Linked DNA regions of Homo sapiens. The protein of the gene in region 1 purifies or fractionates together with the protein of each later gene. This does not show direct contact. Each region holds a gene or a part of one and is shown on either strand. Other genes may lie near its edges. The genes, in order: ZNF641, CHAMP1 and AHCYL2.

What was found.
Region 2: the proteins of ZNF641 (region 1) and CHAMP1 purify together in Homo sapiens (affinity purification with mass spectrometry; one large-scale study listed by BioGRID and IntAct). This does not show direct contact.
Region 3: the proteins of ZNF641 (region 1) and AHCYL2 purify together in Homo sapiens (affinity purification with mass spectrometry; one large-scale study listed by BioGRID and IntAct). This does not show direct contact.

Annotation. Positions count from the first base shown.
Region 1 is NC_000012.12:48,344,381-48,348,035, forward strand, and holds part of ZNF641 (zinc finger protein 641), read right to left. Parts: coding exon 3,527-3,655; intron 2,964-3,526; coding exon 2,872-2,963; coding exon of another isoform or gene 2,769-2,871; intron 1,095-2,768; coding exon 965-1,094; intron 333-964; coding exon 219-332; intron 1-218. UniProt on the Homo sapiens protein: Transcriptional activator. Activates transcriptional activities of SRE and AP-1.
Region 2 is NC_000013.11:114,320,959-114,324,613, reverse strand, and holds part of CHAMP1 (chromosome alignment-maintaining phosphoprotein 1), read right to left. Parts: intron 3,505-3,655; 5' UTR 3,382-3,504; intron 2,552-3,381; exon of another isoform or gene 827-2,551; 5' UTR 772-826; coding exon 1-771. UniProt on the Homo sapiens protein: Required for proper alignment of chromosomes at metaphase and their accurate segregation during mitosis. Involved in the maintenance of spindle microtubules attachment to the kinetochore during sister chromatid biorientation.
Region 3 is NC_000007.14:129,388,917-129,392,571, reverse strand, and holds part of AHCYL2 (adenosylhomocysteinase 3), read right to left. Parts: exon of another isoform or gene 3,632-3,655; intron 3,517-3,631; coding exon 3,373-3,516; intron 2,939-3,372; coding exon 2,838-2,938; intron 1-2,837. UniProt on the Homo sapiens protein: May regulate the electrogenic sodium/bicarbonate cotransporter SLC4A4 activity and Mg(2+)-sensitivity. On the contrary of its homolog AHCYL1, does not regulate ITPR1 sensitivity to inositol 1,4,5-trisphosphate.

The DNA.
Region 1 (3,655 bases):
TTTATTACTTTTCCAAGGTCCCACAACTACAGCCCAGAATTCAAATCCACAAAGTGCCTGCTACATCATTCTATTACACTCCCTTGCTTTTGAAGAAAAAAATCTCTAAACCTTTTGTCTCTGGAACTCTCTGAGGCAGAGGAGGGATTAAACGAACATGGAATGATGATGTCCCGAACTGTGAAGGAAGTGGCTGAAAGCCTATTCTAGGTTCTTACCTGTATATGTGACCCTCAGAATGTCCCTCTCCTCTAAGTCCTGGGGGTCAGGGACCCATTGTTCTTCTCCTCCTTCTAGTTGAGAAAGCATGTCCAGTTTGGGAATTGGAAATCCTGCTCATGGGAAAGGAAAATAGAGCTGTCAATTAGTTCAACAGCAATTCTATATTTCTGAAAAAAAAATACAAAAAACTGTTTCCTATTGTTTGGAACTCTAGACAAAAGAAGGTCAAGAAAGAAACATATCCCCACCCCAACCTCTTCCCCCACCCATTTCTGTTAAGTCCCTCTTCTCTGCCTAGAAAATCACTCTCCTTCCCAATGAACCTGTTTTCTTCCACTCAGATACTTCCAGCCCAGCTGGCCTTTCTGGGCGTAACTTCACTTTAGTCCTACTACGACAGTCCTACTCCCTGCATCCCTATCTTCCTCTACATGGTTCCCAAGTTTACAAGGACCCAGTTCCAGTTCTCTCTGCTTTATGAGAACCTCCTAATTCCCAACCAAGAAGAACCTCAAGTTCTACTCCACAATTAAGCATCATTTGCTTTTTTACTTTTTTTTTTTTAATGATATTTACTCTCATTCTCTTGGGATTGGCCCTAGTGTTCTTTCTCCAGCGGAAGCATAGACAGATTCCCTGCCACATAAAGAGTCCTAGACAGACACTATCCAATAGCCCTGAAGCAGATGGCTCCGTCCTCCCAGAGTCCAATCTTCTAGTGGCTGGAGAAGGTCATGCTTACTCAGAGAGACTACTATCCCACAGTTTTCCTGCATGACATATTCTCCATAAAAGTCTGTCTGAGAGGGGTCCAGGCTCCGCCACTCCTCCTGAGAGAAGCACAGTGACACATCCTTGATGGTTACCAGGCCCTGAAACAAAATGTAGCATCTTCTGTCAGCAGCTGTTTTTTAAGGAAAATGTGATTCAGTATGAAAGGCTAAGTTAGTAGAGGAGAGAGGGTGAGAAATGATCTGAGAAAAGAGCTGCCCAGAAGTCCCTGGGTAGGGCACATAGTTTTGGTAACAGGGAAATGAGGAGAGGAGTAAAGGTAGATGGTCAAGGAGTGAGTGAGTGTAATGTTACTGGAGGAATTTCCCAAGTGGGGCCATGAGAAGCTGGAGGCACCATAAACTCATCACCACCTCTGTTTAGCTACAGGTGTCTACTCAGTCACTTCTCCCTGGCCTTACTCTTTTTATGAAGAAATTATGTACCATTTCCTCCTTCTTCCACTGGACCCTGCCTTTTCTATCAGCACAAAATGCTACAGATAAAACATTCTTTCTTGCCTCCCTTGCCACAGCATTTTTTTTTTTTTGAGACGGAGTCTCACTGTCGCCCAGGCTGGAGTGCAGTAGCACAATCTTGGCTCACCGCAACCTCCACCTCCCAGGTTCAAGCGATTCTCCTGTCTCAGCCTCCCAAGTAGCTGGAATTACAGGCACCCACCACTACACCCAGCTATTTTTTTTGTGGTGTTAGTAGAGACGGGGTTTCACCATGTTGGCCAGGCTGGTCTCGAACTCCTGACCTTGTGATTTGCCCACCTCGGCCTCCCAAAGTGCTGGGATTACAGGCATGAGCCACCGTGCCTGGCCATATCTTTATATTTTTAGGCAGCACAGTATGGTGGTTAGGAGCTCAGAATCTGGAGCCAAGTGACTCAGCTTTGCCACTTTCTTGCAGCATGACCTACACAAGTGCCTTAATCTCTCCCTGCCCCATTTCCTCATCTGTAAAATTGGATAACTGAGTTGTTCTCAGAATTAAATGAGTTAATATACATAAAGCACCCAGAAAATGGCATACATGATAAACACTCTGGGGGTGTACTCTATTAGTACTAACACTATTAGTATTAGCTTTCCACAGCTCTCCTATTGCCTTCTGAATCTAAACCTAATTTCCTTTCTAGCTCTGCCCCTCTTTATAACCTTCTTCCTCTTCTTTTCCATAAATGCTCCCTCATCTACCCAATCCTTCCACTTTAGGTTCTTCTAAGCTTTCTTCAGGTCCTCTTTTCCTAATCTTTCCAGATTTATTTCTTAAAGGAAGGTAATTAATTATTCTTAAAATCCTCCTGTGGATAACAAACACAGCCATCCATTAAAAACCCTAACCTTGGCCAGGCACGGTGGCTCATACCTGTGACCCCAGCACTTTGGGAGGCTGAGGTGGGCAGATCACCTGACGTCAGCAGTTCAAGACCAGCCTGGCCAACGTGGCAAAACCTTGTCTCTACTAAAAACACAAAAATTAGCTAGGTGTGGTGGCGTGTGCCAGTAGTCCCAGCTACTTGGGAGGCTGAAGCACAAGAATCGCTTGAACCCAGAAGGTGGAGGTTGCAGGGAGCCAAGATCATACCACTGCACTCCAACCAGGGCAACACAGTGAGATTCTGTCTCAAAAACAAAAAACAAAACAAAACTCAAAAAAACCCTAACCTCAAGGAATTCCCTTTCTTGTAGGTCCATTTAATTTTCCAAGGGTCTTATGACCCCTTGGAAAGGGATAGAATCTATTCAGTTATAAGATGAACATACCATTGATGATCATGTGAGCCAACTCATCAATGGGCTGATGCGAAAGCAATACAAAGGCAGCAGTGATGGGACCACAGGAGACGCCAAGGGAAGCAGAGCTCACCTGTGATCCAGCCGCAAGAAGTGCAGCTGCCATCTCCCAGTCTCCAGTGTTCCCCTCCTGGGGAATTGCAGGAACCCAGGGAGCAGACTGAGCTGATAAGGAGAGAGAAGAAACATTAGAGAATAACGATCTACCCTTTCTCAATGGGGCCTGGGCCCCATTTTAGAGAGGCTTAAGGGTCACAACTTCTGTATCTATGCCCATTGGTAAAACTCAAATGCATAAATGTAGATGAGAAGGCCATCACTCAAAATGTTCTGAAAGGGTATCAGATGGCTTTTAGTTAGACTAGCTATAGTTTGAATTTACAGTACTTGAATGTAATTTTCATCTAGTAAATTACATCTTACTGAGTGGGTTATCCAACAGTAATCAGGTTGCTGTCACTTCCTTCATCTCCCTCATTCAGTATCACTAATTATGCATTTGCATGTGGAGGGAGTAATTATGAAGAAACAAGAGAAGCCCAGTTGCATGGTTTGCTGAATTCAGGAGCCTATTCTGTACCTGTGACCAGGGCTGAGAAAGAATGGGCTGGTCCTGGTACAGGTTATGCTATTTAGTCCATGGCAATTTGGAGATTTTTAACCCTACTTTTGGAATAAATATTAGGAGACTATGCACTGTGCTTCCCACACACTCTGTGAGTTCTCACCCTTCTCCTGAAGGGACTGTGGCTCCTCTTCAAGGTCACAGCACAGGTGCTCCAGAGGTCCTGGTACTGTTCTCCATGGCCGCTCTTCCTGGCTTCCCCTTTCCACCTGGGGCTCTGCTCCATCCAGCT
Region 2 (3,655 bases), on another chromosome or scaffold:
CCAAGGTTCTGGGGAAGCAGCTAGAACTGGTGACTCTGGAGATGAGGCTGAAGGTGGCCCCAATGTTTCCGGGAAATGAGACTGCTTCTGGGGTTTGGGATTACTAAGAGTAGCCTTTACTGACTCAGGAGATACAGGGGCAGGTTTCTGTGGTTCTGGAGAAGGAACAGGGGCAAGTTTCTGAGACTCACAAACAGGGACTGATTTTGGAGGTTCAGGAGAAGAAACAGAGGCAGGTTTTGAAGGCTCAGGAGAAGGAAGAGGTGTCTGTAGCTCAGGAGAAACAACAGAGCCAGGTTTCTGAGGCTCCAGGGGAGTAAGAGGAGTAGGTTTTGGCGATTCTGGAGACAAAACTGAACCAAGTTTCTGTGTTTCCATTGAAAGGGCAGGTATGGATTTTGGTTCTGCTGAATTGCAGGGTATTTTCTGGTGTTCAGGAAGAGGAGGGCTTTTCACAGGATCTGTTTCTTTGTTCAACTGATTTTTTGGTTTATCATTCCATTTGTCTGGGGATGCATGTTTGGATGTGATGTGATAGTATACATTAGAGTACATCTTGCTGGTGAAGAAGCATTTATGGCAGTGAAATAACTTTGCACTTTTCTGGTAAAATATCATTTTGCCTAGCCCACCAGCATCCATTTCATCACAAAATTCTGGATGGATGGTACCCATATGGATTTGTACATTTTCATAGTCTGTGCCTCTGAAACTGCAATGGTCACACTCCAAACGTGCTGATGGTTTACGAAGTTCCTGGAATGCTTCCATTCTTCTGTCTGTTACCAACACACACGGTTATATTCTTTAAAAACTTTCAATACTGCTGCAATAAAGTAGGAATAAATTATTTTCATGAACTGTAATTCTGAATAAAATGCTGTCAGTCCATTCTATAACTGCATAATTTTAAGTCTAGAACAGTGCGTGCTTTATTTGATAGTATCTCTAGGGAGAATTTGAAGAAAAAGGAGATATAGAACAGTCCCAGGCACTCTGCTAGGAGTTTCACATACATCATCTCATTTAATCCTAATGATATGACTCAACTATTATTTTCACTTACAGATGAAGAAACAGGTTCAGAGAAGTTACCTGACTTTCTCTGGTCCAGGCTATAGGACTATCAGTGATGTGAGCCTGACTCTAGAATTAGCTATTGCATGTGCTTTATACTTTGACTCTCAAACTCCGAGTACAAAAGTCCTCAGCACACAAAGATGAGTGAATATCAAAATTAAATCTTGGCTATTTAAGGATGAACAAGAGACTAAAACTTTTGCAGAAAGCACTTAATAAATTAAATCTAGCTATAAAAAGATGACTTTAAAACATGATGCTGGCTTGATTTCATGTCAACATATTTTGTAATGTTTAATCTATCCCAATATAGTATTCTATTAATTCATTTAATAAATAAATAACTTTGTGTCCTACAATGTTCTAGGCACTTAGGCTTAAAGCAGTGCTTTGCAATATGGCGTTCATGAGTTGGAAAGATAAGGTGGAGAGTGATGTAGAGGCCGTTGGAAAAGACCTCTATGCATGGGACATTCCAGCAGAGATCCTGAATGATGTGAAGGCGCATACCAACCAAAGGGCAAATCAGAGGACACCCCAGCAGCTGGAACACAGTTGCCGGAAAACATGAATTTAAAAAAATTGTAAACCAGTCTTCTTAAGTAGTAAAGGGAATAGAAGCTCACAGTTAAAAACACATTCACACAGTACGAGATACAGAGTGTCAGTCCCTAGGGGTAGCCAGTGTACTCATGTGTCCTGGAAGAAATGTCCTAAGCATATATTGATCAACACACATGCTTTACACAAATGGGATATTAAACATATTATCTGGCAACTTACTCTCATTTAGAATTTATCTCTAAGACATTTTTACATATGGAATAAGCACTGACTTTCCCTGTACTTATCTGTGCATGTGAGGGTATTTCTGCAGGGAAAATTCCTAGCAATGGATTACTTGGCCATTTGTGTGTAAAATTGATACATTTTACCAAACTCTCAAAAACTTCTATTACTGCATAACAACGTGTATATATGAGAGACAATTTCCTATAAATTCCTAATCCTTGCTACAACCTAGGTGAAAGCTAGTATTTCACTATTGTGTTAATGTGCTTCTCTTTAATGAGAAAGACTGAACACCTTCCCTTATTGACGGTAATGATATTTACTCCTCCTCAAAGAACAGTACAGATTAGAAATGCAGGCTCTCCCTTTATTAATTACAAAACCATTATTTTAAAAAAATGTATAGGCTGGGCGCAGTGGCTCATGCCTGTAATCTCAGCACTTTGGGAGGCCGGGCAGGCAGATCACGAGGTCGGGAGATCAAGACCATCATGGCCAACATGGTGAAACCCCATCTCTACTAAAAATACAAAAATTAGCCAGGCGTGGTGGCGTGTGCCTGTAGTCCCAGCTACTTGGGAGGCTGAGGCAGGCCAATCGCTTGGACCAGAAGTCGGAGGTTGCAGAGAGCTGAGATCATGCCGCTGCATTCCAGCCTGGTGACAGAGCAAGACTCCATCTCAAAAAAAAAAAAAAAAAAAAAAATTAACATTTCTAACTTTGATAATTTGTTTTTAAAGATGTTCTCACTGGCAATACTGCTTCCTAACACTTTTATCCAAGGTATATCATTTGCCTTTTTTATTTTTTGATCTAAAGCTAAAAAGGTGACAGATACTTGAGGAAACAAATACTTTTCTTCGGAAACTATTTACTCTTTCTGAGTTGCCCAGCAGTTATCCTGTATTTTAGAAAACTGTTTTGGGGCCAGGACTGTAACAAAAGAAAAATAAATAATTCCGTACTGATGAAAAATCTCTGAAAATGATCTTTAACTTACAAACGTAATTGAATGCATGGAAAAATAATGGGTTAACCATCCGTCTCAGAGCCCATTGTTAAATAAAACTAGAAGACTTTAGGGGAAAACGTAGGATATGTCTCAATAATCCCATGAGGCAATAATGAACAGCCCAACTGGCAATAATGAACAGCCAAGCTAATATTAAAGAGCACTATATTACATATTGTAATTACAACAGAGACTAAGAGCTCAGGTGTGCTGGGTTTGAGTCTGACTCACCTACCATTCCCCATTCCTCCCAGCCATCCCTCCTCTTCCCGCTGCCTACCACCAGCTCTTCAGGCCAATCTCATACTTAAATCTACAAAGAATGCTACAGAATTCACTTCTCATATCCCAAATTATGTATATCTAGCACACAACACACATTATATCCATAAGGGCGTGTACACTTTTAGAGATTTTCCTCAAGAACTCCAGGTATTTTTTTTTAATTTTCTCCTCATAAAATATTCTCCTAAGCATGCTTTCCCTACTAGACTTACCTGCTGTCTTACTAGACACCTTAAAAGTGGTCTTCAAAAGGCAGGCATTCTACATGGCTTTTTGACTAAACCACAGCAAACAGCCTATAGTATATGAAGAAGAACAAAGATGAGAAGTTGAACCTGGAAAAAAAAAAAAAAAAAAAGAAAAGTAATCAAAACTATATCTGTGATCGTGTGTGCCCCCTGTAATGGAATTCTGTGTATTTCTCTCACCATCCTGCCCTAACAGTGAGAGGAGTCCAGTCCACTAAGCCTGCTTACTTTTTTTTTT
Region 3 (3,655 bases), on another chromosome or scaffold:
ATATGTTAAAAACTAACCCCCTAGGCGATGGTATTAAAAGGTGATTATGGAAGTGATTGGAAGGTGATTAGACATGAGATTTCTGCCCTCACAAATGGGATTAGTGTACTTATAAAACAAGCCTGAGGAAGCTTGCTTGCCCCTTTGGCCATGTGAGGGCACATAGAAAGCGCCATCTATAAGGAACAGGCCCTCACCAGATACTGAATCTGCTGGCGCCTTGATCTTGGACTTCCTAGCCTCCAGAACTGTGAACAATAAATATCTATTGTTTATTAATTACCCAGTCTAAGGTATTTTGTTATAGCAGCCCAAATGAACTAAGACAAGAGTGAAAGAGTATTAGGTTGGCAAACAAAGCATAATTTCTTTGTCGTTATTTTTTTAAAGGAAAAAAATGTGGGGTGGAAACAATAAATTAATATTAAAATTGGTAAGCTAATTGTGATCAATCCATTCAGGAAAAAAATAGAAAGGGAACCATGAAAGGTGGTAATGCTCACTGAGCCTAAGGGTAAAAAACAAACTAGATGTAATTCAGCAACATGAGACAGTAGAGAAGCACTTACTATTTTAAGCTACCACACTGAAGTCTCATGTCGCTGACTGAGCAGGCCAAAAAAGATTCAAGAGTGTTTCTGTCTTGATTCATTAGTTTGTAGCTCCAAAACAGATAGCTTTTCAATTTATTATATTAATTTTGAGCAGTCAGGGTACTCTTGTCCTCAGAGAACACATAACCCAGAAAAGTTTCATAGTGAAGATGCTAATAGAAGCTGTCTGTACCTTGAGGAATCTCTAATGTTCTTAATCAGGAATGTGACCACATAAGTGTTGTGCTTTGGGAGAGACAATCTTTGGAAAGCTGATCTAGCCACACAGATGACCCAGATCTTATGAATCCCCATAAAAGATTCCAGACCACTGCTCAATATAACAATTTCCCGATAGTGGTCTCATTATGGTTAGCAACTCCATATATATTGCATCTCTGGTGATAAAAGAGGAGATCTAGAAAATTGTGGGGGCATTTTTGGTTGCCACAATAATTGGAAGGGGAGTGCTATTGGCATTTAGTGGGCAGGACCAGGAATCTGGACATTTTGAAAGTGTCTCAACAAAAAACTGTGTTGCAGCTGGTACAATTTTCAAATGTCCCAATAAAAGTTCCCATGGGTGAAAAACCTATCTACAATTATCTGAGTTTAGAACCTAATTCCACTTTACAAATTAGCAAAAAGTAGTTTTGTAGTTTTAATACAAAACAATAGTTTTTCCAGGAATGTAACAGCTATGTAAATGAAGAGAAAACTCATACTTTTTGTTGTTCTTATTGTTTAGAAGATTACAAAAAGTTGTTTACTATTTCAGAAAATCATGGCAATGCTGCTCTGATGCTCTGGAATCAATAACACATTTATTTCTGTCTTCAAATAATACTATTTCAAATAATACTGTGAAATAGTACAAATATCTGATTGTTCTACTATAGTTGTCCTCAAGTATTTACATATTGAAATACACATTATTTTAAGTATTGTACTTTTTTTATTCCTCCTTCATATTTCAGTTAAGATTTTATATTGATTTATTTTTAAAGATTATATGTACCTGGACATGTTATATCTGAATTTCATTTCAGGATAGTTCAGGGACACTGCAAAAAAAAAGTTTTTTAATAAAAAGGGGACATTAAAACTGATGAGAGTAAGGTAGGAATCACTGGTGTAAGCAAATCATGGTAATTCCACGCCCCTCGGTAGGACTGGTGGAGCACAGATACATGATCCAGTTCTGCCCAATGAGACACGATGGAGTATCCTGGAGGGACTTCTCTTGAGTGAGGAAGAAATGGTCCCTCTTCCTTTTCATGTCAGTTTGTGATGACTAGAATAGTTGTAAGCATCTTGCTATCAGCTTTAGGGTGAAGTAAGCATACTGAGGAGGCAGCTCCAAGAGAATCAGAGAGGTGAAGCTGGAGCCCTGAGATCCTGCATCTGAAGTCTGCCTTCCCTTTGGACTTTCTGCTATGTACTGTGATAAATTCCTTTATGTGACATAACTTTTATTACAGTCTGTTGTTGTAATTGCTCTCTTTTATTTTGAGTTACTGTTGTTCATTTCTTACTGTGCTGAATTTATAGCTGTCTCTCAGTATCCTCAGGGGATTTATTCCAGCACTCCCATGGATACCAAAATCTGAGGATGCTCATGTCCCTTATATAAAATGATGCAGTGTTTGCATATAATCTGTGCACATCCTTCTGTATATTTTAAAGCATCTCTAGGTTATTTATAGTACCCAATACAGTGTAAATGCTATGTAAATAGTTGTTATATTTCTTGTTATTTTGTATTGTTGTATTATTTTATTTTCTGAATATTTTTGATCTGCAGTTGGTCAAATCCTCAGGAAGCAGAACTGGTGGACATGCAGGGCCAATTGCATAAATTAAACTTGATTATAGGTATATATGTATAGGAAAAAACATAGTATATATAGGGTTCAGTACTGTCTGAAGTTTCAGGTGTCCACTAGGGGTCTTGAAACTTATCCCCCACAGACAAGGCAGGGGGACTACTGTATATTGAAGTTAAAATCTTGACTCTGTGATTTCTAGCTGTATAACCTTAAACAAATATCTTAAGCCCTCTGAGCCTCAGCTTCTTCGTTTATAAAATGGAAACAAGAATACCTGCTTTATATGGCCATTATAAGGATTAATAAGCTAATACTTGTTAAGCTCTTAACTCGGTGCTTGGCATGTTGTAAGCTTTCAGTAGCTCGTGGCTATTATTAACTATTGTAATTAAAAGGAGAAAAGAAAAGAACTCACAGCAGTCTGAGCAGTGATGTGTGTGCAACCCACGATTTTGGCTCCAGCCAAAGGCTTTTCTCCTTGAGCTCTCTTCCTCAAAGCCATCAATGCAGGCATTTCTGAAAAGGCCCAATAAATACAGCAATATTAAAGAAGAAGGAATAAGAGATAAAAGAACAAACAGAAAAACTTGTTTTCTTAAGTTAAGATCCTTCCCCTGATCAGGTTAGATTAGGTTTCTCCAGGGATCAAGACATTAAACCTGTATTTTCCTTTATAAAGGGCTTTTGGAGGCAAATGCTCCAGGGTTCTGATTCTCTATATTCCAGTCCTTATCCAGTCTCTCTCCCTTTTTTTTTTTTTTTTTTAATACAGGGTTCCTTCTAGACTTGCCAGATTTCCCCAGTGTTTCTTGAACTCACATTTCTTTTGTTATAAGTATTCTTATCACATAGAAATTTCACAAGCTACCAGACCCCAGACATAAAAAGGGATTAATATGGACAAAAAGACACAGGTAGGTTAAGAAGGAAAAGGTGCTTGTTTTCTTTACCTTGTTCAGCAATTTCAATTTCTCTTCGTCCAAACTCTGCCTGTTTGATGTTCTTAACACAGAAGTCACTGCTTCCCTTAGAGTTCTTTTGCTGCTTGTCCCTGGGCGATGTCTCATCATCAGAGCTATCTGTATATGAAGCCGCTGGAATGACAGAATAAAAAACACTCGGAAAAAAAAAAATGCTTCCTCTAAAATTCCAAACCATGGAGCAAACTGAAGCTTCTCTAGCCACCTAGCACCATATAAATTTTTTTACCTCTGTTAAGTACCTGCAGGCTAT